Linked DNA regions of Homo sapiens. The protein of the gene in region 4 interacts with the protein of the main gene of each other region in a biochemical or structural test. Each region holds a gene or a part of one and is shown on either strand. Other genes may lie near its edges.

Region 1 (7,719 bases), on a different chromosome or scaffold from region 4:
AAAAAAGAGAAATTTGTATTAAAATGTTTACACTATGCTTCTTCCCGGATCACCACTGCCCCTTCCCCAATAAAAGAAGAATGAAGCATGGTGACCTGAAAAATGATTTATGCTTTGCTATATTTTCTGTCTAGGTGATAAAAATAAGAGATGAAGAACAAATTACTAAAGTAATGTGAAAAGGAAAAAATTCAAAAAGAGAAAAATGGAAAATCAGAAAAATAGAAAAATTAGGTAGATTTGAATCCTATTATTCTCTGGTTTCAGTAAAATAGAATTAAACCCAAAGCACTCATCTCCCAAGATTTTTTTTGTACATTATATTCTCTCTATATGTAATATTTCTGTATTTAGTTTTCTGGTTGCTATCTGCAGTGGAATATACAACTAATATAAAATATTTATAATAATGTACAAAGTTGTAATAATAACCACGGAGTTCTACTGAACAATTAGGCATTCAAAAACATTGTCAATGCCACAGAGAGTGAAACACATTGTCGATTCTACAGAGGAAGTCCTGTAGTTAAAAATCTGTCTAAAGGACATCTCAAAAGCATCAAATTACCAAGTACAATACAATACTCCATGAACTAAAAAACAGACAAATAGCACGGGAATAAATACTGAGAGCATTTGGTTGCTTTATCCTTGTATTAATCATATGACCATGCCTAAAATTCACATAAAGATACGCTCTTTTAGTCACTTAAAAGACAGCCAATAACCCTGTTGAGGGAAAAATCAAATTATTTTAGCTCCAATTTTCAATTTTCTTTTTCTTTTCCTAGGTTAAATTATTTACATTTATATTTATACAAACTTGTCCCCCCAATCAAATTAACAAAAAATCTTTATATTCCATAGTATTTCTTAAATCTTTCCTCACAATATAGGGTGCCAGTCTTTAACAATGCTTAGGGCCCCTGTTAGATTTAGCAATATAAAGTAATTTACATTGTCAATGATGCCTAAATATTTATGCTTATTAATCTCTCAAGCAAATCTGCATAGCTGCAAATACTTTCACAAGATCTAAAGATAAAAAGTTTACTTTTAAATTCCATCAATTCGCTATACTATAGTCTTAAAAGAACATCTTAACCTATAATTCCTTATTTAAAATGAAAAATTACATTAGACATAATGAGTATCTGTGAGTTATTTAACAAAGAATGCATATCACTGAATGGGATCTGCAAAGGAAATTTATAAGAACTCTTCAATGTATACAGAAAACTTGTGAGTTAAACAAGAAATCTCAGTTGGTGAATACATTTATTTGCCAGATCTCAGAAGGATCTGAACAAAAAATTACCTTGCAGATAATTTTTTGTAATACTTTTCCATGTGACTCATTGGATTGATAAAACACCAGGTATACGACAGTCTTCAGTCTTTATAGTAACAACTTTGTCATCAATTTACAACTGACTGAGGGCCAGTTTGCTTATCATTAACCAACTTAAAAAATTAGTTATGGATTAGTCAAAAGGCTGGGATAGTAACTACATTTTTTCTACTAATAGTCATTGTCATTCGATGATGTGCCAAGACAAGATTCTATGCATAAATTCTTCAAGTCTTTATCGCAATAATATTTCCTGAATTGGTAATTAATTAAAACAGAATTATGCCCAACTGCAGTGAACAACTGGACTGGAACAAAGCTAGCCACACTTTAGTGAACATGTGCTTATTTCCATCTAATTCAACATGCTCTATTATCTAATCCCCAAGTCACACTAGACCCTCTTTTCTATATTCAATTATTTTTCTGTGTGCTTCCTACAAGTGGAATGCTACCAAGCCTCTCAGTATCCTGTACTGATGCAGATGGAAGTGAGGCTGCTGCTTTAAAGAGCAATGCATTTCTTATTCCCACTAATACCCAATACTCTATTGTTCAGTTTGAGTTATCTTCATAATGTAGCTACCCAATCTAGATACTAAGGCGCTGAGCCTCCAGTTTAAAAAACAGAGAAACTACTAATAAGAGGGGGCCAGCCCAAACTCCTGCAGGTGATCTTGATAAATGTGGACACACTAGCTCCTCTCACCAAGACTCAAGTGTCATGGCAGCCTCCCTTATTTCATCATTGAGGCCCTTCCGACAATTATAGGACAAGCAGACACCAGACATGTATTACATTCTTTCTGTCTTCAAAGCACTTTACCAATACCAACTTAAAAAGATATTTAAACATCTCCTTTTGATTGAGCTCTCAAGATTGAGTTCTCCTCATCATTCCCACTAATCTCTATAAATTTTTCCTCTAAAGAGGATCTTGGAATGATTTTGTAAACCAAAAATAAAATTCTAGGCCCCTCAACTGACCGAATGGACCCCTCTGACTGAACGGCCAAGGGCATTCCAAAGTAAACATGAAAAACTAGCTCAGGCTATGATGGGAAGCGGGGGTCAGACGCACCTCATTATACTCTCCTCCCTTTGGAATTCTGGCACAACTGACCAGCATTAATATTAAAACAGAGATCTTAAGACTGACGAAACACTCTTTGTAGCAATAAAATACCAAATTCTAAACTGACTCTAGTATAACATCACACAACAGATAGCAGGCTGTGAAAGAAATAAAGGTATTTTACCCCAAAATATATTTCTTAGACCTATTTTGAAATGGCCCTGCAAAGCTGTCTCTTGTGTGGAACATTCTATAGAAAAAGACCTTTCTGATCTCTTTTTTTTTTTTTTTTTTTGAGATAGGGTCTCACTCTCTTGCCCAGGCTGCAGTGCAGTGGCATGACCACAGCTCACTTCCACTTTGCCCAGGCTCAAGTGATCCTTTCACCTCAGCCTCTCAAGCAGCTGGGACCACAGGTGCATACCATCACACCTGACTAATTTTTTTTTTTAATTTTTAATTTTTTTGTAGAGACAGGCTCTCACTATGTTGCCCAGGCTGGTCTTGAACTGCTGGCCTCAAGCAATCTTCCTGCCTTGGCCTCCCAAAGTGCTAGGATTACAGGTGTGAGCCACTGCACCACCCCAGGTCTTTTTTTGATCCAGGAGAGATTTAACTAAGAGTCTGGCACATTTTACGTTCTGATAAGAGATAATAACCATCTATTCTCTGAAAGCCTGCTACCTGGAGGCTTCGTCTACATATTAAGAACCCTGGTCTCCATGACCCCTTACCTTATCTTAACCCAGACACTCCTTTCTATGGATTCCAGGTCTTTAGATAATAACTTAATTATTTCGACCAACTGCCAATCAGAAAATCTTTGAATGTGGCCACATGTGTGGCTCATGCCTGTAATCCCAGCACTTTGGGAGGCTGAGGTGGGTGATGACTTGAGGCCAGGAGTTCAAGACCACCCTGGGCAATATGGCGAAATCTCATCTCTACTGAAAAAACACAAAAATTAGCTGGGTGTGGTGGCAACATGCCTATAATCCCAGCTACTCAGGAGGCTGAGGCACAAGAATTGCTTGAACCTGGGCGGCGGAGTTTGCAGTGAGCTGAGATTGCACCACTGCACTCCAGTCTGGGTGACAGAATGAGACTCTGTCTCAAAAAAAAAAAAAAAAAAAAAAAAAAGCAAAAATAAGAAAAACAAAAAAGAAAATCTTTGAATCCACCTATGAACTGGAATAGAAGTCCCCGCTTTGAGTTATCCCCTTTCCAGACTGAGCCAATGTACACTTTACATGTATTGATTGTTGTCTGCCTATAACTTCTGTCTCCCTAAAATGTATAACATCAAGCTGTAACCCAACCATGTTGGGCACATGTTCTCAGGACTTCTTGAGACTGTGCTTTGGGCCTTGGTCACACATTATTTATCTCAGAATAAGCCTCTTTAAAGATTTTACAGTTTGACTCTTTTCATTGACAATGAAATGTTTCATTGACAATGTAATGATGTTTCATTGATGAATATACTAACAACTGTTTTAAATTTGACAAAATAACAGTTTCAGCTGTGAGAAATACTATGGCTTAAGCCTCCTTCCTTACCAGAAATTTTCTCTATGGCACTGAATGACACCTGAGTCAGTTGTCCGGGAAATGCTCCCACATAGCACTGTTCATCACTTGCTGCAAGAGGAAGGGAGCACACCCAACCCATAGAGGCATCCTTTTCTCACTGCACTCCTCATTCTTCTGTTCCCTCAGTTGAAGAAGCCTTCTTTAACTTCCTTCACCCCAGATCATTGGCTGGAGAAGACTCTGAGCCCCACAATCCAGAGAAATTCAGACAACTGATTCAAGTTCTGGTTCAGTGACTACATTTTTGAAATATGTGGAATGCCCAGGAGTACCTTCATTAAGCAATATGTATTAGAAGAAAAAGAATTTCAAAAAGTCTCCTACAATTGAACTTGATCCTCCATTGTTTTTTGAAACTCCCTTGGAAGCTTGAATTTTCCTTATTTGGCAAATGACCTGGTTTCCTCCTCATTTACATGTTAAGGATGGAATTTTAAAAAAATTAATTGGTTCATTGTTCTATCACAAGCACCAGTAGAAAAGTGAAGCAAAGCCAGGCTATAAAGAATAGTAGGCTGGCCACAGGGCCGCACTGGCTCACACCTATAGTACCAGCACTTGGGGAGGTCAAGACAGGCAGAACATTGGAGCCCAGGAGTTCGAGACCAGCCTGGCCAACATGGCAAAACTCCATCTCTACAAAAAATACAAAAATTAGCCAGGCATGGTGGTGTGCACCTGTGGTCCCAGTTACTCGGGAGGCTGAGGCAGGAGAATCGCTTGAGCCTGAGAAGTCAAGGCTGCAGTGCTGTGGCCGTGCCACTGCACTCCAGCCAAGCAAGACCCTGTTCCCGTCCCTCCCAAAAAAAGGAACAGCAAATGACTGCTACCATGGTAGTCCCAAAAGGTAGATAGCTCTCTATAGTTTTCTTTTTTTTTTTTTTAAACAACTGGTAATCATTTATTAAAATAGTTGACTTAAGCATCTGCAATGGTGACTTCAACCTCAACTCCTGGCTCAATAATGATGGAAGTAATCTGCTTAACAATCTCAGAAAGACTGTGGAAGTCAATGAGTCACTTATGGATTCTCATCTGGAAACAATACCATGTCTCAGAACCTTCATAAGAAGTTTTTCTTGTAATGTTTCTCAAAGTCTTGGTAGGCATTCAAACTGGTCCTATCACTTTAGATTCTTTTCCTTTGATCCATTGATCAAGTCGGCACACACCTTCTCCAAGGATTTTACCTTGCAGCTCGTTAGAGTGATTCTTTTTATTTATTTATTTTTTTATTATACTTTAAGTTCTAGGGTACATGTGCACAACGTGCAGGTTTGTTACATATGTATACATGTGCTATGTTGGTGTGCTGCACCAATTAAGTCGTCATTTACACTAGGTATATCTCCTAATGCTATCCCTCCCCCCTCCCCCGACTCCATGACAGGCCCCAGTGTGTGGTGTTCCCCACCCTGTGTCCAAGTGTTCTCGTATTTTTTTTTTTTTTTTTTTGAGATGGAGTCTCGCTCTGTCACCAGGCTGGAATGCAGTGGCACGATCTCGGCTCACTGCAACCTCCGCCTCCTGGGTCCAAGTGATTCTTGTGCCTCAGCCTCCCGAGTAGCTGGGATTTCAGGCACGTGCCAACATACTCAGCTAATTTTTGTATTTTTAGTAGAGACAGGGTTTCACCATGTTGGCCAGGCTGGCCTCAAACTCCTGACCTCAGGTGATCCGCCTGCCTCAGCCTCCCAAAGTGCTGGGAGTATAGGTGTGAGCCACCGCGCTGGGCCTAGAGTGATTCTAATTCAGTGAATTGCCACCTCTGGCTTCATGGGCGTTTTTCTGTATCTCCTGACCAACCTGTTTTTTGGTGAGAGCGAGCGGCGGTGAGTCAGGAGCAAGAGCAGGCTTACCACAGCTCCACACCACGTTGTTTATCAAAGAGCTATATTTTTTCTTTAAATCTAAAACATTCAGACAAGTGAACAGTCCCAACTTACGAGTGACTGAATTTTCTGACTATAAAAAAGACAGTATGCTTAAATTTCTGGCAAATGTTTTCTATCTCTTGGCAAGGCTCCCAAATGCCAATCTTAACTCATTTGTCCCCTGAGCCCCCAATTCCATTAATCCAACCAGACCTACCTACCTGTCCCCTTCCAACCTAGACTCTGTCTTCAACCTCATACAACAGTGTCCTGCTCTCCAACTGAAGCTCATTTCTGAACCAAAGACTTGCAAGGATCAAGGCATGACCATTTTTAAAATCTCTGCCTATCAGCTTCTTCCTTTACCCCCAATCTCCACATTTCTTTCATCTTCATCATTGATTCTCCTCTTCCAATTTTCTCTAAACATCTTTGTAAAATGCAAAGTCCTTCAGGTGCTGCTAGGACAATCACAAATGAATTACAACAATGGATAAGGTTACAAGGGAATCCTGTCCACCCTTCCATGGACACAGAGAACTCTTGATGTTCCATTTACTGTCCAGAAACACCAAGGCAATAAGCAACACTCTCTATAACGGCCATATGTAGATCTAGGTCAAGATCTAGATATAAAAAGAACTGTACCACCACAAGGGCTCCAAAATGTCCCTTCATTCTCAATCCTGGCTTCTTGCAAACTTTCAGAAAAGTTGCTGAAATTTATCTACGGATTCAAATTAAAAAAATAATAATAAATAAATAAATAAAAGACTGTGTCTTTCTGGTTGCTCCAATTATACTATGGAAAGGCCTAGTAGTATCAGCTCAACTCCAGCCCCCTACAGTAGGTTTGCCCAACCCCAAGGCCACAGACCAGTACCAGTCTCTGGCCTGTTAGGAATCAGGCCACACAGCAGGAGTGAGCAGCAGGCAAACAAGTGAAGCTTCATCTCTACAGTCAGTCCCCATCGTTAGCATTACCACCTGAGCTCCACCTCCTGTCAGATCAGTGGTGGCATTAGATTCTCATAGGAGCACGAACCCTATTGTGAACTGCGCATGTGAGGGATCTAGGTTGTGTGCTCCTTTTGAGAATTTAATGCCTGATCTGTCACTGTCTCCCACCACTCCTAGATGGGACTGTCTACTTGCAGGAAAACAAGCTCAGGGCTCCCACTGATTCTACATTATGGTGAGTTGTATAATTATTTCATTGTATATTACAATGCAATAATAATAGAAATAAAGTGCACAATAAATATAATGCACTTGAGTCATCCCCAAACCTTCTCCCCTTTAGAATATATCACAAACTAGAAAGTATACATACATCCCCCCGACTGTGGTCCCTGGTCCCGAAAAGTTTGGGGACTGCTGCCCTACAGTTTTCAAGTCATGAGGTGACTAATTGACAAAACATAGCTGCACTGACCTCACCTCGACTGCCAAGAACCACAGGCCTCATCTAGGTCCATCCCAACATCTGGGGTAATCTTGGCTAAACTCTTTCAAATCTCAATTTCCTAATGTTTTCATAGACAGGGTTAATACTGCTGTTTCCTAATAGGAGTATTACACTAAATTAGTAGACATGCAAACAGTTATGAACAGTTTCTGTACATTTATTTCATAATTAGAATACTGTCTTAGACAAAACTTTATTGCTTTTTTATTTCTTCTGTGTTTCCATATTTCATATTAGCATGACAACAAAACTAGGTTCTTCTATTCATTTCTCTTATTTAGGTAAGCATTATCTGATGACGAGGTTGTGGGTTTTTTTTTTTTAATGTAACTGTGTCTAGCAGAAAATCTACTTGTAA
Region 2 (7,719 bases), about 210 Mb from region 4:
AATGAGTCTTTATAGTCTTAGGTTCTAAATATAACCATGACGAGAGGTTATTAGATTTTTAAATGCCTGAATTCAGGCTGGGCATGGTGGCTCATGAATATGAGCCAGCCTGGGAGGCGGAGGTTGCAGTGAGCTGAGATAGCACCACTACACTCCAGTCTGGGCAACAGAATGAGACCCTGTCTCAAAAAAAATTTTTTCTTAAATACCTGAATTCAAGTATTTCAATCACAAGAAGATATAAAACTTCATAATTTGAGGCAGAAGCACAATCCACCTAACTGAGTGATTTGCCAAAAGTTCTAATAAGCAGGGATGTATCAACCACCTCCATTGCCCAAACCAAGCTTAAAAATGCACCTGGATTTAAGCTGCTTCTTTCCCATTAGCATTTCAAAGTCAAAATCAGAGGTCCGGGTTTCTGGGGAGGTGGAGGAGGGCCGCAGGGACAGGAGGTAACTGGAAGCACGACCAGGGAGGGAGGAGGTGGTGTGGGGGTTTTCCCACTTCATACCCCACCCCTGATGTCTGAGGGCCACCAATTCTCTCTGCACCTTCTGGGGTCTGTTTCCTCCATTATTTCCCACATATTAAATGGAGCTGACCACTTCCAGGGGGCACACAGCACGGGTTCTGTACTGACTGGTGGGCACTGCTGATGGATGGTGGCTATGGGGAGGCAGGGCCTCCAGCTGACCCAGGAGCCAAATTAAGAAGAAGAAGAGGCTTCCTCATGCCTGACCCATACCCAAGCCCCACACCACATCATCCCTGTGTGTTTTGACAACCATGCTGCCTCTAGCACCCCATCTGGACCCAGCCCTGCCTCGGCCCTTTTCTAAGGGGGCATTTAGGAACGCAAGGGGGCAGGGCAGCAGCTACTCACGTCATTAAACACTTTGTCCAGCTCCTTGGGATCCATGATGAAGTTGGGGTATCCTATCATGTTGTAGATGGCATCGGCCTGGACAGGACAGACAGAGGAAGTGAGTGCCCGGCAACATCGACCAGGCCAGCCTGAGCAACTTGGGTGCTGGGCTCATAGTCTGGGCCAAGGGGAACCAGAGCCAGGCCCTGCCTGCCTTGGGCTTTCATGTCTTTTTCTGGAAAGGTTTCCCCCTTGCAAAACTTCTACTTATCCCTTAGGTCTCTGTTTAAATGTCACTTTCCCAAGGGAAGTCTTCCCTGACTCCCATCCCACTGGAGGGTGCCAGAGCCTTCCCGACCCACGGGACGTGCTGCGTTTTCCTGCACCTTTTCCCCGTACACTCAGCGAGGTTTGTCTTCTACAGACATCCAAGCAATCATGTGCTTGAGGCCTACCCCGAATCCTGCTAGGCCTAGACCGCTCACCCGCTGAAGGCGAGACAGCATCCAGGCTGTGCTGCCGGACAGAACTGGCCTCACCGGGCGCGGTGGCTTATGCCTATAATGCCAGCGCTTTGGCAGGCCAAGGCGGGTCGATCACCTGAGGTCGGGAGTTTGAGACCAACCTGACCCACATGGAGAAACCCCATCTCTACTAAAAATACAAAATTAACCGAGCGTGGTGGCGCACGCCTGTAATCCCAGCTGCTCGGGAGGCTGAGGTGGGAGAATCGCTTGAACCCGGGAGGCGGAGGTTGCGGTGAGCCAAGATCGCACCATAGCACTCCAGCCTGGGTAACAAGAACGAAACTCTGCCTCAAAAAACAAACAAAAAAACCGGCCTCTCCTTCCCCCACCCTCCTCTATCTGTGCTGGACGCCGCAGCACCCCCTCCAAGTGCCTGGCCAGCCTCACCTTTTCCTTGGCTGATTTTCGGGTTTCCTCATCCATCCACTTCAGGGTGCTCAGGCTTTCCTCAAATGCCTTCTTAATCTCCAGGATGATCTCGGTGGCCTGAGGAGATACACATCACAGCAGTAAGGTCTGCGCACTGGTCTCAGGTAAATGCAACAGGCACCCCGTGCAGAACAATGATGGCCAGAGATTAAACTCAATTTTCCAAGCGTCAGGCTGGGTGAGAAGGGGAGCCACAGCTGTGCTTCCAAACCACGCTCCTAACGTGAACACCCTGCAAGACAGGACTGGCCTTCCACACACAGGGCTCCATGCTCCAATAAGCTTAGGATGAGCTTCGGGAAAGTTGGAAAAGTCTCTGCTGTGGTACTTTTCAGAGCCTTTAATATGGTAATAATAGGCACCGTGATTCTTCCAGAGAGGGGAGAAGACACAGCCTCTCCCAGCCTTATTGCCTTATTGGACCACAGCATTCCTTTTTGATGGAGCGGGCTTTAAGATCTAGAGTACTCATGTTCCGAGGAGCAGCTTCGGAAATACCATGCTCAGGCTGGATATAGACAGGTGTTCTTGAGGGAGACAATGTCATGAGCAGACAAGCTCGAAGATGGAAAGTTGAAGGTTCTAGAGAAGGGGAAGGCAGAGCTGTGCGGCAACAAGAGCAGAGGGGCCAGCAGACCCCAACTCAGACCCTGCCCAGCTGCTCACAGGCCAGTCACTGTAATGGATTTGAATTGCGGTTGGCTCACCTCCGGCTGCAGATGACAGCTACATAATGAATACTATTTGTCATCAAGATTGTAACAATAAAATGACCACTCCCATTAGCTGAACCCTTATTGTATGCCGGTGCCCAGTGTGTGGCATCTCATTTAATCTCTCTCTGTGGGAGGAATGCCCCCGTCTCCACATTGCAGATGATGTAAGAACTGTCCCAGGCCACCCGACCAGCGGTGAGGCCAGGATCTGAGCTTAGGCCGGGCTGTCTCCAAGGCGCTCTGCCATGGCACTCCTCTGCCTGTCTAGAACAAACCTGTCACCCACAAAATAAGAAAAATGTCACCCTCTGGGCCAGAGCTGTTCTGCCAACATTCTCTCTGGGTCGTTCACAGCCCTTGGAGGTGGGGATGGCTGTCACAGCCTTGCAGGCTGCTGGGAGGATCACATGAGCTCGTGCAGATAAGGGCCTGGCACTGAAGAGCTGCCCTCGTGAGACTCCCATTACCCAGGGCTCGAGGAAGTGAAGCCTCTGCATTGAGGCTGTGGCCCTAAGGTCCCCTGCCCAGGAGCAGGAAAGGCCCAGGGTGGGCTGGAGTGTGAACTGGCAGGTCTGTGCAGGCCACAACAAGTGTGACCTCACAGCCTGTGTCCACGGGGAAGGCACTTACTATGCTCTTGCTGTCCTCGGCGAAGGTTGCTTTGACAAACATGGGGCCCAACGCAAAGCCCAGGTTGTTTTCTGTGTCACTCACGCAAAACTTCCAGCGAGGAAGACAGGTCTGGAAAACACAAGTCAGGGGGCTCGCTGGGCCCCAGCCCTTTGTTTCCCAACCCCTTTCTTGCTGGGAGGTAGCACCATGTGGGGCCCATGCTTTGTTCTGGAAGTTCAGGGAGAGCTTTCCGACCCAGTAAAGTTATTTTAGTCACCGGACCAAGAGGCCACTGATACCCTCACTCCCACCCCCTGCCATTTCCTGAATGCCAGGCTCTGTGCTGGGACTTCACAAATAGTGTCCCGTTGAGCCATTCAATGACCCTCGGGGCTTACAAGCCGTTTGACTGATGGGGAAACACACTCGGCACGGAGCAGCTGCTGGCCCAGGGTGCCCCACGAGTGACAAGTGTTGTTGGAATGAGAACTGAGACGTGCCTGACTCCACATCCTATGCTCCTACCTACCCCCATCTCGTCCTGCCTCCTGGGAAGAGCAGGAGTCCTGGAGGCAAAGAGCGGTGGAGAGTGACTGGTCTACCCTGAGTCACAGAAAAAACTGCCCCAGGGCCAGGGCTCCAATGCCATTGAAGATCTCCTCAAATGAGAACACCACAGCAACACCGCAGGACTTTTTTCTTTTTTTCTTTTTTTTTGGCAGGGTCTCGCTCTGTCACCTAGGCTGGAGTGCAGTGGTGCGATCACACAGCTCACTGCAGCCTCGACCTCCCAGGCTCAAGTGATCTTCCCACCTTAGCCTCCCGAGTAGCTGGGACAACAGGTGCAGGCCACTATGCCTGGCTAATTTTTTCTATTTAAAAATTTTTTTTTTTTTTTGTGGAGACATCATCCCACTATGTTGCCCAGGCTGGTCTAGAACTCTTGGGCTCAAGTGATCCACCTGCCTTGACTTCCCAGAGTGCTGAGATTACAGGCGTGAGCCACCACACCTGGCTCACCGCGGGATTGCAATGCCTTGATTCTTTCTTGGTCTTGCCTACAAGCCCCAACAGTCCATACAACCCCTCTGTGCAAACCGGAAATAGGCGTCTGTGGGCTGCAACCTCCTGGGCATGGCCCAGGGACGCGTGCTGGGCTAATGTCAGCCCCAGTCACTCCCCGGCCAGGCATCCCTCTGTGGACAGTATATATGACCACGTGTGGTGGCCCTGCTCACATAAATCCCTCGTACGACAGAGGAAGTGATGTCCTCTTAACCCCAAAGAACAGGTGGTTAACAACCACCCACGCTCAGGGCAGTCTGATTCATCATGGCCCTAAACTGACAACAGCCAAAATGCCCATCAGCAGGCAGACGGATCAACAAAATGTGGTATTTTTATACAGCAACATACTACTTGGCAACAAAAAGGAATGAACTAGCTACTGATATATACGACAGCATGGATAAATTCCACAGACTCAAGCTGAGCAAAAGCAGCCAGGCACATCGTGTATAATTCCGTCCACACCCAGCTGCACCAGCCTTGGGGGCTGGGGGCTGACAGGAAAGGGGCATGAGGGTACCTGCTGCTCAGAGGGCGCTGGACAAATGGATGATGGGAATGTTCTCTATCTTTCTAAAATTTTTTATACATTTTTTTCTTTCTTTTTTTTTTTTTTAGCATGCTATGCCCAAGGCAGAAGGGGATATTCTCTATCTTGACTGTGGTGATGGTTACATGGGTGACTTCATTGGTCAAACTCATTGAGGCCAAGTGTGGTGGCTCATGCCTGTAATCCCAGCACTTCGGGAGGCCGAGGCAAGTGGATCACTTGAGGTCAGGAGTTCAAGACCAGCCTGGCCAACATGGTGAAACCCTGTTTCTACCAAAAATACAAAAATTAGCCAGGCGTGGTGGCACATGCCTGTAATCCCAGCTACTCAGAAGGCTGAGGCAGGAGAATAGCTGTAACCTGGGAGGCGGAGGTTGCAGTGAGCCAAGATCAGGCCACTGCACTCCAGCCTGGGTGACAGAGCGAGACTGTCTCAATTGAAAACAAAAACAAACAACAAACAAACAAAAAAGGCCGGGATGGTGGCTCACACCTGTAATCCCAGCACTTTGGATGGCTGAGGTGGGTGGATCCCCTGAGGTCAGGAGTTCGAGACCACCCTGGCCAACACGGTGAAACTCCATCTCTATTAAAAATACAAAAATTAGCCGGGTGTGGTGGTAGGCACCTGTAACCCCAGCTACTCGGGAGGCTGAGGCACAAGAATCGCTTGAACCCTGGGGATGGAGGTTGCAGTGAGCTGAGATCATACCACAGCACTCCAGCCTGGGTGACAGAATAAGACTCTGTCTCAAAACCAAACCAAACCAAAAACTCACTGAACTGAATACTTAATGTACACTGCATTTTTATTGTATGTAAATTATGCCTTAGCTACAAAAATTCCTTCTAGGCAAGAAAGAAAGGAAGGGCCACTCTTCTTCTTACCCATGTTCTTTTTAGTTTTCCCAACTACGTGTCCATTTGGATGCCTTGCCCTCAGCCTTTCCCTCCCTCCCGCGCCTACCCTCCCTCGGCTGAGAAGCCCAAAGCTGGACACATGGTCTGTGTCTGGCCGAGGCCGACCACACAGGATGTCAGGACGAGGGGGACTCTAATTTGAAGCTCCGTGGAGGCTCCAGGCTGTGAGGGCTGAATCACAGACAGACTTTCTTATGTGTCGTCTTCTCTGGAGATTCTCTGGATAAACCCATTCCTTCACACGAGCTTTCATTCATTTACGCATCCAGCGTTCTGTGAGCAGTTGCCCTGCATCCTGACTGTGCTAGGTCTTTCGAAGCTAGAGATGAATCAACAGTGAGCCTGTACTCCTGGGTCTCAACTGAAATGCCCAGAACATCCAGTGAGAGAAACAGACATGTAATTGCACCATCCACAGCAGTAATCACAGTGAAGTGTAGCAGTGGAGTGAGAGCGGGCCCTACTGCATATACTGCTCACAGTAAGATTCTCCTGCCTCAGCCTCCCGAGTAGCTGGGATTACAGGTGCCCACCACTACCCCCGGTAATTTTTGTATTTTTAGTAGACACAAGGTTTCGCCATGTTGGCCAGTCTGGTCTCGAACTCCTGACATCAGGTGATCTGCCCGCCTCAGCCTCCCAAAGTGCTAGGATTATAGGTGTGAGCCACCGCACCCAGTCTGTTTCTTTTTGCAGATAAAAAACTGTGGCACAGAGAGGTTAAATCACTTGGCCAAAGGGATCACCCAGGGAGTAAGTGGTTGAGGTGTTTTTTTTTTTTTTTTTGAGATGCAGTCTTGCTCCGTCTATCAGGTTGGAGTGCAGTGGTGTGATACCGGCTCACTGCAACCTCTGCTTCCTAGGTTCAAGCAATTCTCCTGCCTCAGCCTCCCATGTAGCTGGGATTACAGGTGTGTGTCACTACACCTGGCTATTTTTTGTAGTTTTAGTAGAGGCGGGCTTTTGCCGTGTTGGCCAGGGTGGTCTTGAACTCCTGGCCTCAGGTGATCCCACCAGCCTTGGCCTCCCAAAAGTGCTGGGATTACAGGCATGAGCCACCGCACCCGGCCTGAGGTGGAATTTGAACTCAGAAAGTCCGGCTCCAATGTCTTCCTTCAAAGAGGCCACGCTCTCTGCCTACAGGTCACGAAGTCCTGGAAGTACTACAGGATGGTGAGAAAATCTCCAAAAGGAGCGAGGGTCTGATCGATCTGACCGGTCAGGAAGCCTGCATCTTGCAGGAGATCTATGAGTCAGGTCTGGGAAGATGAAGAGCAGCCAGGCAGCCTCCTCCACCCTGACCTGGCTGCAATTTTTTTTTTAACCTCTTCCTCACTGTAATACAAGGAGCACTCAGCAAGGGGTTCCTTCCTCCCTGCTGGAAGTCTCAAGTCACAAATGGGTGATAGCTGATGAGAAACGGCTGCATGCAGCGCTTGAGCAGTCAGAAGAGACTTCACAGGGATCCCCTCGTCTAATCTTAGGCGGCCCTTGGATAAGCAAGGCAGGGATCTGTTACCCCTTTCTACAGATGGGAGATTGAGCCCCTGCCCCAGTGAGGCAATCTGCCTAAGGTGTGATTAGAAGAAACAATTCAAACTTGGATCTTCTGACTCCAAATTCCATGCCGTTTCCTCACAGCAGGCTCCCTCCCTGCCAGGATGAACAAACGCACACACCACACTGCTTCCCATGCTCTATGCTTTTTCCCGAATGAAGGCCATTCACAAAAGTCCTGTGAGGTGAGGTCAGGAGTGATCTCCAATTGCAGATTAAAAAAACTGAGGCTCAGAGAGGTGTAAGGACTACCCAAGGTCACACAGCTAGGAGGTGGCTTTGAGTTGGGCTGAACACAAGGAGGAGGGACCTGGCCTGGGCCCAGACTCTGTCACAGTTGGGGAGTGGGGAGGGCTGGAGATTAAGAAACAGGTGAGCAGCAGCCTTCACCCATCAGCCCTGGGGTATCCAGAGACCCCTGCTCAGACCCTCCCACTTCAGGGTTCCCACTTGCCCTTGCCTCTCTTGAGG
Region 3 (8,358 bases), on a different chromosome or scaffold from region 4:
GGACTGTTGTGGGGTGGGGGGATGGGGGAGGGATAGCATTAGGAGATATACCTAATGCTAAATGACGAGTTAATGGGTTCAGCACACCAGCATGGCACATGTATACATATGTAACTAACCTGCACATTGTGCACATGTACCCTAAAACTTAAAGTATAATAATAATAATAATAATAATAAAAAGAAGTGATAAAAATGTTTTGGAATTATATAGTGGTGATAGCTGCACAACTTCATGAATATACTAAATATATTTTTAAAACGGTGCATTTCATATGTAAATTATATCTCAGTTTAAAAAAACAATTAAAAGAAGAATAATTTCAGTTGTGTGATCAGTATAAAATATAACCAATAAAAAATAGGAGTGTTACTGCTGAAACAACATGCAATAAATTAATTGTAAAGAAAGCTGTCAACTTCTAGATACCCAAGTATGAGCTAGTTTCTTTGTGGGTGTATTGCAAATTATTTACCGTAAAAATTCTGCTTTCCCGTTGTACATTTTACAAATCCTTATTGAAAACCACGAATTCAAATATCTGTAGGGTAAATATCTAAAAGCTCAAGCACTCTCATAATTCCTAGTGATAAACTTCCTGTTTTCATTTCCTTGGAGTAAAAACCTCAAGATCCACCCAGAACACCACCCCAAACTTCCTGTCATCTTGTTCTATCTTCTTTTTTTTTCAAATTTTATTATTATTATACTTTAAGTTTCAGGATACATGTGCACAACGTTGTTTTGCAGCTCAAAAGCAAAAATATCCAAAATTGTACAACTCTTTTTTGTTTTTGTATCCTTTTAGGAGCTTGAAAAGTGGTTGGGGTAAATGACTCCCTTAAACAAAGCTAAATAACCATTTGCTCTGAATTGATGGTCAGTTTTGGAGAGATGATTATTTTGCCTCTTTCCCTGTCTCTTTGGTGAGGGATTGTTCTCTCTAATCTCCAGCTTTGAGAATTTGTCCAATCAATCAAAGCAGATCTTGAATTACTTCTAGGCCACCTGGACAGGGACTTAATTATAGCTTCATCAATAATAGTAATATTTCAAATAATGTATCAACAGAATGGGGTGACTACCAGAAAAACAGGGTTCAGAGAGGCAAAACTGTTGAGAGAATGACTTGGAGGGCTCATCAATCTGGCAACCCGAGTGATAATCCCTGACAGAAATTTCCCGAAACTAAAGCAAAATAGGTTCCCAGTTACCAGCTTTCCTGATCTGATTGCAAAGTTACCAAGCCAGATTTACCTTGTTTCCTAATATTGGGATGGAGATGAAGAGGGTGCTTCAGATAAGGAACGCAATCTTTGTGGTCACTGGAAAGTAGTATATCTCTATTGCAAAGTAATAAATTAACAATCAAAGTACTATATCAGTTTTGAGATAATTTGATTGACATGAGCCATCACTGAGAGCCTGGGTATTCTGAGAAAGTTCAATATCTAGACCTAAAGCTCAAGGACCAAACTCTAGCTTAACAATTTGTTGATCCACTGCCCTATGAGAGTTCTAACCTGACAACATCTCCCCAAAACATCCCCCCAAAACATCCCCATCGCCTAAGAGTGGTGTTTAAATATTTCCAAGACAGCTTGTTGGTTTGGCCAATTTAGTCAATTGGCAATTTTGGATAATTTAGTCAAGCTATTTAATTTAGTCATATCAGTGGGAGAAATGTCAAATCATTTAGCTGATATTTGGAATGTAAACAAAAATATAGATAATTTTCATTTAAAATTTTTTTCCACCAGTTGGGTTATATAGCATTTGAGGATAGAACTAGGGTGCCTTTTGCAAGATTCTAGTCTGAACATGGTGCTCAGGCCTGAAGCTGTCTTTGGGGCAAAGGGAAATTAGAACTCTCCCTTCTCCTTATGTTCTTGGGACCAGATTCAGCTGGAAGCAGCTGGTCTCAAGAATGTACTGAGTCTGACATCCATTCATCTCACTACATCAGTTTCACCTTAACTTACTTAATAGTCCTCTGTGTCACTTTTCATGTGATGCGTAGACAAAGAGGTAGTTTGATGAAAATAATCACTCATGTTGGGCATTTCACTGAATTTTAAGCTGGTTTCTACAAAATGGCCAATCTGATTGTTATTTCTGAATAAAAGACCTTATTTTTTTTTCCATTTGCTTTAATTGTGACATTTCACAGACAGGCACAAAAATAATATGCAAAGATTCATCAATAATGGGCAATCTTCTTAACTACCCTCCTTTTAGAGACCCCCAGGTTAGGAAAAGTCCAGTGACAATTAAAGCAAGGCTACTCTATGGGTAAGTGAATTAAAGAAAAGTTGGTATAAAGTATGTACGTGGGTACATGGGTATGAATGGTGTGTGTGTGTGTGTGTGTGTGTGTGTTGAAGTTGAGAGAAGTGGCAATGATATTGGCACTCAGTGTGGTGGCTGGGGTTGGGGAAAGTTAAAATGACTCTGAGAGACCTAGATTAAAAAGGAAGACCCATATATATTAAAATCATTCCGTAATCTGTACCTCTAATCTTTACCTCTATAACCAGGGCACTATGTCTAGAATTTTTACGCATTTTTGCATTTATGTATTTCTTTTCTCCTTTGAAGTTTCATCTGTGTGTGTGGGTGGAGGTGAGGCGGCAAATAAAATTTGTTCTGAACTCTGTAACCTTCTAGCAGAGGAAGAATTTCTCTCAAGAACATTTACTTTTTTAGCTTAGTCCTTTAAAATTTACTGTTAAGTAATCTCACAATAAACAACAGGTATTCATTAGAAAAAAATTAATTTAATGTGATTTACTATTTAATTCTGCTAGCTCAGCTACACTTGTCCTGCAGAGCTGCATAATTTATTCAAATGGCCTGAAACTTTTTAAGTAAGTCTACCAGCAGAAAAATTATTCCCTACTCCCAGGAGAATGAACTTTTTGTGTTGTACTGCTTCCCAGGACTGACACTTATTTGACTCTCAAGTGTATTTACATTGTTGGCTTAACTGGGAGTTCTTTGCTGAATCAATAATATACAGTATTTCTTCAAGTGGTGTCAATATTATTGCTATTCTTTTTATAAACTTTTTGTTAATTCTCTGCAGTTACAAAATTTTTCTTTGACTTGTGAAAAAAATTACTCCTAAGATTATGAAGACGCAGAGTAAATGGCCCTTTAATCTTCTGGGAAATATGTACCTCTTTAAACTTTATTTATGTCAGAACTTACTGTAATGAAGGACAAAAGCTCTAGACAAGGTCCCCTGTTCCTTGTGGGTGTTCAAGGCTAGGTCTTCCGGAGACAAGCCTGTAGTTTGTTCTCATAATTTTATAGCTCACCTCCTGGCTGTTTCTTTGCAAGGGGCCTAAGAGGGTACAAGAAAAAGAGCAGGGTGAGAATCTGACCCATTGTGACCACTCGGGAGGCCCTGGCCTGGAAACTTCCCCTTTATGTGGCAAAAACAAACATTTGAAATGGAGGGAGAAACCAGGTTTAAACAATGAGTGAAAACAGTTTCCATCTCAGCTTTCCTGCTGATAAACATATGTGCCCCCTCATTTGTTTCTGAAACATAAGTTTTCCATCATTTTAACAGAGCCTCAGCCTCAACTGAATCTGTCCAGAGCATAGGAAACAAATATTTTGAGATTTAGTAAAATGGTGCATACATATATTAGGGGCATTTTGACAATGTTCAAACTGTTTACCAAACAAACTTTATGATGGCCTATGCAAACCTTTGAATCCTACTGTATTTTTCACATAACGATGACTTCTCACTGATCTCATCTGCCTGTGTGCTACAGTATTGACTTTAATATTAATGGAGAAACAGACAGATATCAAAAGCCATGTGATTTGTCTCATGCCATTTGCAATTTTGTCTTCTGTCATCAACACTGACTTCTCCTTCCTTGTTCTGCTGAACTCCATACTTAGGTGCCCAGCTACTTCCTCAGAGCCTGCCCTCATTCTTTACCTGTGGCCTGCAGCATGGACAGGTGCATTCTTGCTGCTTATCTGAAAAATATGATCCACAGAAATAACTTGAATCTTTTTGCCCATTTAAAATGTGCTCTAGGTTCTCTGGTTCTCTGTACTAACTATAGAAAGCCATCTAGTCACAAGTTTCTCCTTCCTGTGGTCTCCATTTGGGCAATACAATTAAGAAAAATACGTTTCCCCACATAACAATTCTTCCAATTCTTTTCCCCTTCTTTGATGCTTTTATGATAGATTATGAATGGTCATCAGTGATTTTCTGTAAATGCCACGTTTCCTTTTTGCCAAGACAAAGAGTGAGACTAAGGGACCATCTAGTGCTTCCTCTTGTGGTATAGAGGCTAAACAGCGTGAGTTCTGATATTAGTTTCCTTTGATTTAAATGCAAGTGTCTTCATTTAATAGCTGTATGATCTCAGAAAAGTTATTAAACTCTATGAGTCCTAGTTTCCTGATTTGTAAAGTGGGGGCTAATATGAATAGCTTGTAATAGCACCTACCATATGCTAGGCATGATTTTAGGCACTTTAAACATATTAGCTCATTTAATTTTCCATTAGCTTATTTAAAATTCCTACTCTACGATGTAGGTAATTTATATCATTCTCCTTTCTCAGATGAGAAACTGAGACATGAAGAAGTAAAGTAACTTGGCCAAGGTCAGAATTAGTAAGTGGTAGAGCTGGGTTTGTAAAGCCAGGTAGTTGGATCCCAGAGGCTATTTACTAACCAGTGTGCTATATTGCCTCTCTATTAAATTATTGATGATAAATAACTCATCACAGTGTTCGGCACATAACATTTATTGTCAGCTAGTATTATCACTACCATCACCTGTTCTTATCTTTCTTCATTTTGTCACTCTTGCTTCTGCTGGATTGGTTGTGTAGTTTATTGCCCCCACTGCCACAAGAGACAGCAGCAACAGTGATCTAGGTTGAAATAGCTAGCGAATCCCTCTTCACTTTATGTGCTTTGTATTTAAACCACAAATATGACAGAGACCTATGAAAGGAGACTAAACCTCTTTTTGGTCGTGTAAAAATTATATTCCTGCAATCTCCAACCCTCCAGCAACAAGCCAACAAAAACTGCGCAAAGCAAGGGAGAAATTTTAGAAGTGGTAGACTTCAAGTAAAATTCCTACCATTCTTTAATAAACAGGGGTAAAAATTTCAGAAAGTAATGAAGGTTGTGAAAGCTGATGAACAAAGACTTTGCTACTATAATAAATTTCCTAGTCTCTACTCACTAATTTCTATTAGAATGCCAATATCAGGAAAAAAGGAAGAGAAAATTCTGTAAATAATTACTATATTTTTCTCCTACCAAGTAAGCCACTGACTTCAAAATTCTCTAGCACATTTGTGGAAACTTCATTTTTTTTGTTTGAGATTTATTTGAATGAGCTGTTATGATTGGAGACAGTGAGAATTTCAGATTAATGTTTTGCAGACAAAAAAAAACCTCTCTGGAAAGCTGGCAAGGGTTCATAAGTCAGCCCTAGAATTATGTAGGTTGAAGGCTCCCAGTGGACAGACCAAACATATAAGAAGGAAACCAGAGATCTGGTGCTATTACGTCCCAGCGTCTGAGAGAACGAGTAAGCACAGAATTCAAAGCATTCTGCAGCCTGAATTTTGAAGGTAAGTATGAACAATTTATATATAATTTACTTGGAAAGTAGAACATACATTAAATGAAAATATTTTTTATGGATGAACTTCTGTTTTTCCTGTGTTTTAACACTGTATTTTGCAAAACTCCTGAATTATTTAGCTGCTGTTTCTCTTACAGGAGTGTGTTTAGGCACTAAGCAAGCTGATTTATGATAACTGCTTTAAACTTCAACAACCAGTAAGTCTTCAAGTGGAATTTATTATTGATTCTTTTATGTTAATTTGTTAGGTCAAAAGAAAAATCTTTAGAGCAAAATAAAAGTTTTGCTCTTTATTAGGAGGTTCTTTAGATATTACACTTTTAATTGGGTAGCTTATTTGCATGTATTTTGAAACTATCTAAAGTAAATAGTGTTTCCTTTGTATGCTTATCTTTAGCTAATGTGTTTTTTTTTTTGGTTTTAAAATAATGCTTCTAGTGAAAAAAATCACAAAAACCTCAACACTGTAACGTTTGAGAGCAACGGCTATTCAGTTCGGTTAAACCGAAAAGAGAGAAAAAGAAAAATGATAAGACTATATCATGATTAATCATTGATGTTCATTTCTCATTTCACTGAGCAATCTAAACTACTTCTACTTGAACCTAACATAGGTTTGGCTGTTTTTTTCTTTATCTGATTTAATTGAAAATGGATTGTTTAGATATTAAATAGACCAAAATTAGATATCTATATCTAAAACTAATATTCTCTATTAAAAGGAGAAGACTTAGAAATATAAATATATTTCATAACTTCTTCTTAACTATATTATTATTGTGAAAACAATAGAAAAGTAAAACTAAAGGAATTATTTTTAATTATTAAAGACAAACCATGATTCCCCATCACAATATGTTCCTTTGGCATATTCTCTTTTAGTTTTTTATATACTTATTTTTTCCATTGCTTATGTTACTTATATTTTCCACAGCTGTAGTGATTTGTATGTAATTAGTTACTTAAATAGAGCATTTCTCTATGCAATAGCAAGCAGCAGTGTGGTTTCTAGAAAGTATACAAACAGAGATATATGCTCAAGTGTTTTTTGAAAGATTAACTTTTCTTACCTCTGGGTTTCTTATTTGTTTCACACATTTCCTGCCCTGACTAATCTTTTGAAATATTAATTTTCTTTAAATCTTTCAAAAACATCATAGAAAAGATGGGCAAAAGGTAGTTTTATTCAGAACTTTGAATCTCTGAAATGTCTTTTTTCTACTATCAGGAAAATTATTTCTCCTTTTTCAAGAGGTAAAATGAATTCTTGTTTTACAAGCCATGGCTCTGTTTCTTAATGTTTTCTATAATCACTCACTTTTTTTTTGCTTTTGACAAACATTCAAAATGCTAATGATTCAAGGATGTCCTCAGCTCTGTATGTGTTCTAAGAGTTCTATGTTTTTTCTCCACAGAAGGCATAAGAACTAGGAGCTGCTGACATTTCAATATGAAGGGCAACTCCACCCTTGCCACTACTAGCAAAAACATTACCAGCGGTCTTCACTTCGGGCTTGTGAACATCTCTGGCAACAATGAGTCTACCTTGAACTGTTCACAGAAACCATCAGATAAGCATTTAGATGCAATTCCTATTCTTTACTACATTATATTTGTAATTGGATTTCTGGTCAATATTGTCGTGGTTACACTGTTTTGTTGTCAAAAGGGTCCTAAAAAGGTTTCTAGCATATACATCTTCAACCTCGCTGTGGCTGATTTACTCCTTTTGGCTACTCTTCCTCTATGGGCAACCTATTATTCTTATAGATATGACTGGCTCTTTGGACCTGTGATGTGCAAAGTTTTTGGTTCTTTTCTTACCCTGAACATGTTTGCAAGCATTTTTTTTATCACCTGCATGAGTGTTGATAGGTACCAATCTGTCATCTACCCCTTTCTGTCTCAAAGAAGAAATCCCTGGCAAGCATCTTATATAGTTCCCCTTGTTTGGTGTATGGCCTGTTTGTCCTCATTGCCAACATTTTATTTTCGAGACGTCAGAACCATTGAATACTTAGGAGTGAATGCTTGCATTATGGCTTTCCCACCTGAGAAATATGCCCAATGGTCAGCTGGGATTGCCTTAATGAAAAATATCCTTGGTTTTATTATCCCTTTAATATTCATAGCAACATGCTATTTTGGAATTAGAAAACACTTACTGAAGACGAATAGCTATGGGAAGAACAGGATAACCCGTGACCAAGTCCTGAAGATGGCAGCTGCTGTTGTTCTGGCCTTCATCATTTGCTGGCTTCCCTTCCATGTTCTGACCTTCCTGGATGCTCTGGCCTGGATGGGTGTCATTAATAGCTGCGAAGTTATAGCAGTCATTGACCTGGCACTTCCTTTTGCCATCCTCTTGGGATTCACCAACAGCTGCGTTAATCCGTTTCTGTATTGTTTTGTTGGAAACCGGTTCCAACAGAAGCTCCGCAGTGTGTTTAGGGTTCCAATTACTTGGCTCCAAGGGAAAAGAGAGAGTATGTCTTGCCGGAAAAGCAGTTCTCTTAGAGAAATGGAGACCTTTGTGTCTTAAACGTGAGAGCAAAATGCATGTAATCAACATGGCTACTTGCTTTGAGGCTCACCAGAATTATTTTTAAGTGGTTTTAATAAAATAATAAAATTTCCCCTAATCTTTTCTGAATCTTCTGAAACCAAATGTAACTATGTTTTATCGTCCAGTGACTTTCAGGAATTGCCCATT
Region 4 (7,719 bases):
TCCCCTTGCACGTTCCCTGCAGGGACCTCGGTGCTGCCCACCTGGGCTGGCAAGGCTTTTAGTTTAGAGGGGGGAAAGGGACAATTCTTTTCTTCCAACAAACTAAACTAAAAAAGGGAAGCTGCCTCCCAAAAGACGCTGGGATTTGACATGAGAGTGGCTGCCGTCTTCCCTCTGCTCGTCTGACATGCACAGCTCACCATTCTCATCCGGAGGCTAGGTAAATCTGTCGAGGTCAAGTCAGGACCTGGTGTCATGGAAACCACCAGGGCCAGCGCCCCATGCTCAGGAGCACAGCAAGCACTGGGCAGACGGTACCCTGGAGCCCATCAGGCCCCAGATCCTCAGGTCCTCTCTAGTGGGACACATCTAGCTGCCTGCTGAGGTCATGTAAATAGAACATCATTGCTAAAGGGAAACCTAGAGGTCCCGAGACAGCCCCCGATCTCCTCACTGGACAGACCATGTGGGCAGGAAGTGGCTGCCTCCTTTGACGGAAACTGAGGCCAGCAAAGTTAGGAAGTGGGGCAGGGTCAGGGCAGCATGCGGTGGAGGCCGGCGAGGATCCTGGGCTTCCTTTGAGTCCCGATGTGGTTGGCTTTTTTATTCTTCCTCCTCTTCCTCCTGGCCTGGCTCTGCGGTCTGGGTCAGGTGGATGTGCTCTCTTTCGAAGGGAGACCCATTTCAGATGCCACTGGCTTTCTTGCCTTTGCCTTCTGCAGGACCCTCCTTCTCAGTGAGCGCTCCTCCCAGCACTTCTCCTAGGGACAGCAGGCTAAGTCCATGTGTCCCTGCTCTGCCCTGCACAGTGTGCTGCCACCCTCAACCGGGCAACCCTCGGGCTGGCCTCTGCCCCTGTGACCAGTCAGTGCCAGGGCTGAGCAATCCCCCCATCTATCACCTCTCCCTGAACCCGAAGGGAAAGACCTCAAGGAGGTTGTTGTGGTAAGAAAAATCACTATGCGCCACTGAACCTCTTTCTCCACAGTCTTGTCTTTCACCTCCCGCCTGGCTCTCTGTCCCTCACGAGGTTAACATCTTGACAGAGCCTCCTCAGTGTCTCTTAGACACACCCCTCAGCCCCACCCCACCCATGGATTTGCCGAGCTGCTCCCTGAGCACGTGTTCCCGTGACTGTGTGCCTGGACTCTTGCGTAACCTTCAAACAATCCTCCCTGCCTCCAGTCTGCACACGGCAGGCTTCCGGGATGACCTCTGAACAGAACGCGTCCCCATTCCCACACCTACCAAGCATGGCGTTCAAAGTGTCTCCAGCTCTGCCCTCCCCAGGCCCATTTTCTGGTTCAACACTCATGCCAAGCCAACCGCCCCATCCTCGTTCCTTGCCCCAAACTCTGCAGGCTGGGCTCATCATGCTTGCTCCTAGCTTCACCAGCCCTGTTGCCCTCACTGCCAGGCAAGGCCTGCTCTCCGCTCCCCAGTGACCTCTGTCCTCTGAGAGCCCCGAGGCTTCCCTGAGTTACCTTGTGGAGCACGTTTCCCTGCAGCTCCAAATCCTAGGCATTTGCCCATTGACCTTTAAAAGCCTGGAGGCAGGGCCTATACAGCCCTCCTCTGGCCTCCTCTGAGATGCCAGGCTTAAAGTCTTACAAGTAGCAAATCCTCAACAAGTATTTGTTAAATGAATGCTTTAAGCAATCTGTGGCTGGGTGCAGTGGCTCACACCTTTAATCCCAACACTTTGGAAGGCAGAGGTGGGAGGATCGCTTGAGGCCAGGAGTTCAAGGCTACAGTGAGCAATGATGGCACCACTACACTGCAGCCTGGGTGACAGAACAAGACCCTGTCTCAATAAAAAAAAAAAAAAAAATCAACAATCTTTGTAGTAGAGGGTTTTCAGTAATGCCCCTCCTAACATGAAAGGGATTTAAGCAAGCCAATTGCTTATTTCTGCATGGGCCAGGGACCCCAGTTCCTGACCTTCTCAAGAGATATGAACCTGACCCTTCTGAGTGTAGAACTGGGCTGTGGGGCCAGGAGATGTGGGTTTCAATCCCAGGACCCCCACTGGTGGCTGTGCCATCTTGAGCAAGGCACTTTGTTTCTCCGAGTCTCTATTTCTTCACTGGTAAACAAAGGCACAAATACCTCTTCACCACATCATAAGGGGATTAAATGATGTAAGAAAAAGGATGTTGTATAGTCGTGCACATAGTAGGGCAGCAGGTCCAGGAGGTGGACGGCCCATCCAGGGACCCAGCGGAGCAGCCACTTCCCCACTTCTCAAGGGTGGTCACCAGGTATGTCCGCAGGGCTGCCCCCTGCCCATCTCCAAGGCCTGACTGGCTGATCTCAGCTACACATTGGATACTAAGTCCTAGGGCCAGAGCCAGCAGAGAGGTTTGCCTTACCTTGGAAGTGGACGTAGGTGTTGAAAGCCAGGGTGCTGTCCACACTGGCTCCCATCAGGGAGCAGCCAGTCTTCCATCCTGTCACAGCCTGCATGAACCTGTCAATCTTCTCAGCAGCAACATCCAGTTCTGTGAAGTCCAGAGAGCGTGGGAGGACCACAGGGGTATAGAGAGCCAGGCCCTGCACAAACGGCTGCTTCAGGTGCAGGCCTGGGGCTGTGAACACGCCCACCACCGTGGACAGCAGCAGCTGGGCCTGGCTATCAGCCCTGCCCTGGGCCACTAGCAGGCCCTGTACAGCCTGCAGGGCAGACAGGACCTTGTGCGCATCCAGCCGGGAGGTGCAGTTCTTGTCCTTCCAAGGAACACCCAGGATTGCCTGTAGCCTGTCAGCTGTGTGGTCCAAGGCTCCCAGATAGAGAGAGGCCAGGGTGCCAAAGACAGCCGTTGGGGAGAGGACGGTGGCCCCATGGACCACGCCCCATAGCTCACTGTGCATGCCATATATACGGAAGCCCAAGAAGTTGGCCAGCATCCCGACCATTGCGGCCCTCAACTTGTCTTCGGTGTCAAGTTTTGCAGCGACTAGCACCAGCTGGTCCTGTAGGGCCTTTTCATCCACAGGGGATGTCTTGGCCTGAATTGGAGCAGGTATGAAGGTGGGGTCTTTGGGCTTCCCGGCATTGGCCTTTGCCAGCTGCTCACAGGTACTCTCATTGTGGATGACGAGGTGGAAGGGGTGTATGTACACCCGGTCACCTGCAGCCAGGCCAGCCCAGGCCAGGAGGCAGAGGATGGTGGCCCTCAGGCTCACACCGGCAGGAGCCATCTCAGACTGGGGTGCTCGCTTCCGCATACCCTGAAATATCATTTTGCAAAGGGTGAAAGGTGGTTATTAACTGACCTTTAAGTGCCATCTAACCAGATCTTTCATTGTCTCAATATTCCCTGTCACCATTTAGCCCAGAATAAATCCATTCATGTCTACAAAAAAAAGAAGAAATGGATTCAAAGCTCCATGGAAAATATCTACATGATCCAAGTGCAAAATGCACCAATATCAGCTGAATTATGTCCTACCTCCCCCAACGGCCATAATGCCCGTGTTGAAGTCCTCAACCCCAGGACCTCAGAATGTGACCATTATTTGGAGACAGGATCTTTAAAGAGATGATTAAGTTAAAATGAGGCCATGAGGGTGAGCCCTGATCTAATATGACCTGTGTCCTTATGAGAAGAGGAGATGAGGACATGGACACACACAGAGGGAAGACCATGTGGGGACACAGAGGGAAGACCATGTGGGGACACAGAGAGAAGACGGCCATCTACAAGCCAAGGATAGAGGACCCAGAGGAAACCAACTCTGCTGATGGCTGGCTCCCAGGCTTCTAGCTTCCAGAACTGTGAGATAACACATTTCTGTTGTTAAACCCTCCCAGTCTGTGGTACTTATGGCAGCCCAAGCAGATTAAGACATGCTCCTGCCTGCAGCTGTAAGTTCTCTTCCTAGAGAAACAAGTGTGTGCCAATCAGTAGGTCTTTGTGGAGGCCTCCTAGACCCCTGAGATGCTCATTCGAGGGCCCTAGGGTGAGGGCTGGGGATGGTTTTGTCATCTCCCTGTGGTCCCAACATGCAGCCGGGATTGAGCACCACAGGCTCAGCCCAAAGTCCAAGTATTTCCCACGTGTCTCAACCCCAAAACCAGCTCTCAACCATCCCTGCATAGCGCTATCCCCTGCAGAGCCCCAAAGGCATGCATACCTAGCATGGCTTGCCCAATGATAGTTGGATTCCTTAGTCTGTGCTGGGACCACGTATAAAAAAAAAAAAAAAAAAATAGAAAATTCTCAGGTGACTCTGATATGTAAGCAGGGTTTAGAACCCCTGCCCTAGACACGGGTCCAGCACCACGTTCTCTCAAAGGCCTTGCAGCTGGGCTTCAGCCTCAGCTGCTACAAATGAAAGCTACCCTGAGACCCCCAGAAGAGGTTCTTGGGCTGGCCCTGCTAATTCATTTCATCTGACTCTTCTTGATTGAAGGGATGAACGTTTATTCTATTGATTCATTCAATTCTAACATTTTGTACCACATCTCACTCATTTCTTGTGGAGGGGGGTGTACTGCAATATCGTCACTTCTTGGCCTTTTCTGTCCCCCCAGGGCTAGGCCAGGCTTCCTTGGAGCTGTAGCGTGTCATCACTGACTCAAGGCCACCTTGATGCCTAGATTTTTCTGCTTCATCTAAGCATACCCAGTCATTCTTCTTACATTGGCAGCTGGCTTCCCTCACCCAGACCCGTAACCAGCACCTGCCCTCAACACGGTGCAGCTGCTGAAGTACCTGGTGTGTTTTGTTCTGCTTCAGTCATTCAAATGCCAAATTCTGACCTCAGCTACCATCTCACCCCACTCCCCATGCATTTGACTCCATCCGCTGTTCTCAGGAAGAGCCACATGACATGGAAAAATGGAACAGAAAACTCTCTCTGCTGCTTGCAGGCCTTTCTGTGCAGAGAAGCCTAAGCCACCAGTTCACACCTAATCTAGACAGTCACATCAAATCAGGTCAACAGGGGAAACCTGTGGGAACCGACTGCTGGGAAGTCCTGCCTGACAAGCGCCAACTGTTCGGGGTTTGGATGGCGCTGGTCGATGCAGCCCGCTCACTGTGCTGCTCCTGCTCAGGCAGCGTCTCCAGAGACGCAATTCCATGGGCCATTTTTGAGGCAGAGACTGTCGTTTGTTCTCAGTTGTGATCTGCGGCTGCTCCCTAGGCTGGTTCCAGGTCTGCACGCAGCCGCGTCCTGGGAGTAATGGTGCTCTGGGGTGGCGGGCCTGACACCCTCGCCCTGAGTGCCCCTCCGCCTTCTCCTCTCCTGCCCCTGCCTCTTGGCCAGCACCTGCCCCTTCTATGTCTCCCTACTTCTCCCGGGCTGAATGCTAAAGGTGAAGATGACGGCTCATGCTCCTGTGGTGCCTGCCATTTGCAGGGCACTGTTCTCATATCAACCCCTCTGACCTCACCATAGTCCTCACCTTCCCTGAGGTTTCCCTGATGCAGTATTTCACCCTGCAGCTTTCCCCACCACACCGGGCACTCTCAACTCTCTCATCCAGCTCCCCTTTTCCCTCCTTATAACCCTCTGTACCATGTAGTTATGCACTTATTCTGTCCAGCGTCTTTGTCTGTTTGCTCTGATGTGAATGTGAGCCCCGGAACAGGGTTCCCGCTGTTGTGTTTACTAATACAGCCCACATTCCTAGGATAGTCCCTGGGACCTACTGCATCCTGGAGAAGTAGTTAATGAATTGGTTCATGCTGTTTTGCAGAGGAACAGAGAGGTCCAGTGACTTGTTCAACGTCACACAGCTGGGAAGAGACAGAACTAGGACTCAGAACCAGGCCCCCTGACTCTGTCATCCACGAGCTGAAGCACCAATCTACGCTGCCCTCGAATAAAATTGGAATCTGCCTTTTAGCTTATCCCAAAGCTTAGAAAGCACTTTCATGTTATATTAGTTCTCTTCAGCTATACCAGAGCCCCTGAGACAGGGAGCCCAGGCATCGTTATTAGTTCCATTTTATAGGTGAGCAAATCGAGGTTCAGGGAGATGGTGACCAGCCTGATGACACACAGTCAGGCAGTCTGTCTCGAGGGAGGGGTAGGGTGACCACTCTGGGGATCCCAGCTGGAGACTGACCGAGCCCGGCCCTTCCCTCCAGCCCCAATTCCTGCACAAGCCCTGCTATTCCTCCTGATGGCAAGAGGACCCGGTGGACTCTTGGCCATGATGACTCTGTTCCTGTACCAGTCTGCTCCGTTCCTGAGGACCCTAACTTTTCTCAGCGGAAGCAGGAAGACCTGACCATCTTGTCCTATTGCTGAGGAGGAGCAGCTCCTCCTGTAAGACCCCAGGTGGGCACCGAGTGGGGGAAAGCCCGCGTCCGGATGACTGGTCTTATGAGAGGGGAGAGGTTTTTCAGTCATCACCGTGCCTCCTCCCGGCCTTTTCCTCCTAGCCCACAGCTCAGTTACATCTGAGAGAGACAAGACCGAGAAGGAGCTGAGGGGGCCCCCGGCTTACCTTCTGCTGTAGTACCCAGAACAACGGCAGCTTCTTCCCCCGGCCGGGTCACGATGCCCTATTTATAGCTGAGGGGTGGGGATGGAGCTGTTCCCAGGCTGCCTGTGCACAGGCTGGAGAGGAGGGTTACATCACTTGGCCAGACCACAGGCTGGCCAGAAGGACAGATGCCAGAAGCGACACTCACGCTGGGACCTCTTCCAGGAAGTCTTAGTGATCGATGCAGAGTTTCACTGCTGAACAGAGTGAGCCGGTGCAGGGTCGAGTTACACATTTACCGAAGTTTGCAGGAGTCGGGGCCAAGGTTCCCAGAAACGGGAGCATCTCCCTAGGTGTGTGACAGCCTGAGGCCAACCACCCAGGCCTTCTGACCCAGCCCCGGGAGATGTACCCCCAAGAGGCCACAGGGACATGCAGGCCGGAGGTGCAGAGGGCAGAGGGCAGGGGAGAGTCTTGCTTAGGCAACACGGGGGCCACTTCTGACCCTGCTGCCCGCTCATGGGATGTGTGACCTTCAGCTGCTCCAAAGAGCCTACCCTGTGCAAAGGCCTCTAATAGACACTGGGGAAAACACACAAGCAAGTGAAAAGTGCCTTCTGGAAGTTTCCAGTGTAGCTGGGGAGACTGTTAAACACCAACAATAGCACAGCCAGATTGAAAGACACAAACAAAATGCCTTCAGGATGCAGGCATTGAAAGATGTGCTGTTCTGTGTTTATGCTGTACAAATTGCAAATGGTAAGTTTCACATGACCAGTAAAAGGGTTATAATTCTTATTTTCCTATAGGTAAGACTTGCTTTTGTAGTCATTATAACAGGGCATGACAGAGACCTTGGTGAGAGTCGCCAGAAGCCAGTGATCACAAGTGACGCAGTGGGTGAGGCAGGTTGGGAGTGGTGATGTGTCCAGCCTTAAATACATGGTATTAGGGCACTGAAGGGACAGGAAGGAAGATCCTGCTTCAACACAAGCAGGTTCAAGGAGCCACGGCATATCCACGATGGCAGACATGAAATTACCCAGGAATGGAACATTTAACAACAAAGAGCAGGAAGAGATGGTGCCTGGATATGAGGCAGAAGCTGTACATTCACTGACTGAACAATCAACAAACACACAAATACCTCTTTTTTACCCATTACTCTAAATCTTCATTTAAAAAAATCATATCTCACATGGGCCTGTAAATTCTGAAATACATTTTTTTAATTACTTTGTTCCTATAGATAGGGACTCCTCAAAAATCACTTGTCT

The links.
Region 1: the proteins of AGT (region 4) and LNPEP form a complex in vitro, tested with the Homo sapiens proteins (one study listed by BioGRID).
Region 2: of the proteins of AGT (region 4) and ECE1, one has a biochemical effect on the other in vitro, tested with the Homo sapiens proteins (one study listed by BioGRID).
Region 3: the proteins of AGT (region 4) and AGTR2 are reported together in a solved structure, tested with the Homo sapiens proteins (one study listed by IntAct).

What each region holds. Positions count from the first base shown.
Region 1 is NC_000005.10:96,940,408-96,948,126, reverse strand, and holds part of LNPEP (leucyl-cystinyl aminopeptidase), read right to left. Parts: intron 1-7,719. UniProt on the Homo sapiens protein: Release of an N-terminal amino acid, cleaves before cysteine, leucine as well as other amino acids. Degrades peptide hormones such as oxytocin, vasopressin and angiotensin III, and plays a role in maintaining homeostasis during pregnancy.
Region 2 is NC_000001.11:21,234,964-21,242,682, forward strand, and holds part of ECE1 (endothelin-converting enzyme 1), read right to left. Parts: intron 3,282-7,719; coding exon 3,171-3,281; intron 1,882-3,170; coding exon 1,783-1,881; intron 965-1,782; coding exon 887-964; intron 1-886. UniProt on the Homo sapiens protein: Converts big endothelin-1 to endothelin-1.
Region 3 is NC_000023.11:116,165,186-116,173,543, forward strand, and holds the start of AGTR2 (type-2 angiotensin II receptor), read left to right. Parts: upstream 1-5,558; 5' UTR 5,559-5,631; intron 5,632-5,782; 5' UTR 5,783-5,842; intron 5,843-7,060; 5' UTR 7,061-7,095; coding exon 7,096-8,187; 3' UTR 8,188-8,358. UniProt on the Homo sapiens protein: Receptor for angiotensin II, a vasoconstricting peptide. Signals primarily via a non-canonical G-protein- and beta-arrestin independent pathways. Cooperates with MTUS1 to inhibit ERK2 activation and cell proliferation.
Region 4 is NC_000001.11:230,707,623-230,715,341, forward strand, and holds the start of AGT (angiotensinogen precursor), read right to left. Parts: upstream 6,501-7,719; 5' UTR 6,464-6,500; intron 3,232-6,463; 5' UTR 3,202-3,231; coding exon 2,373-3,201; intron 1-2,372. UniProt on the Homo sapiens protein: Essential component of the renin-angiotensin system (RAS), a potent regulator of blood pressure, body fluid and electrolyte homeostasis.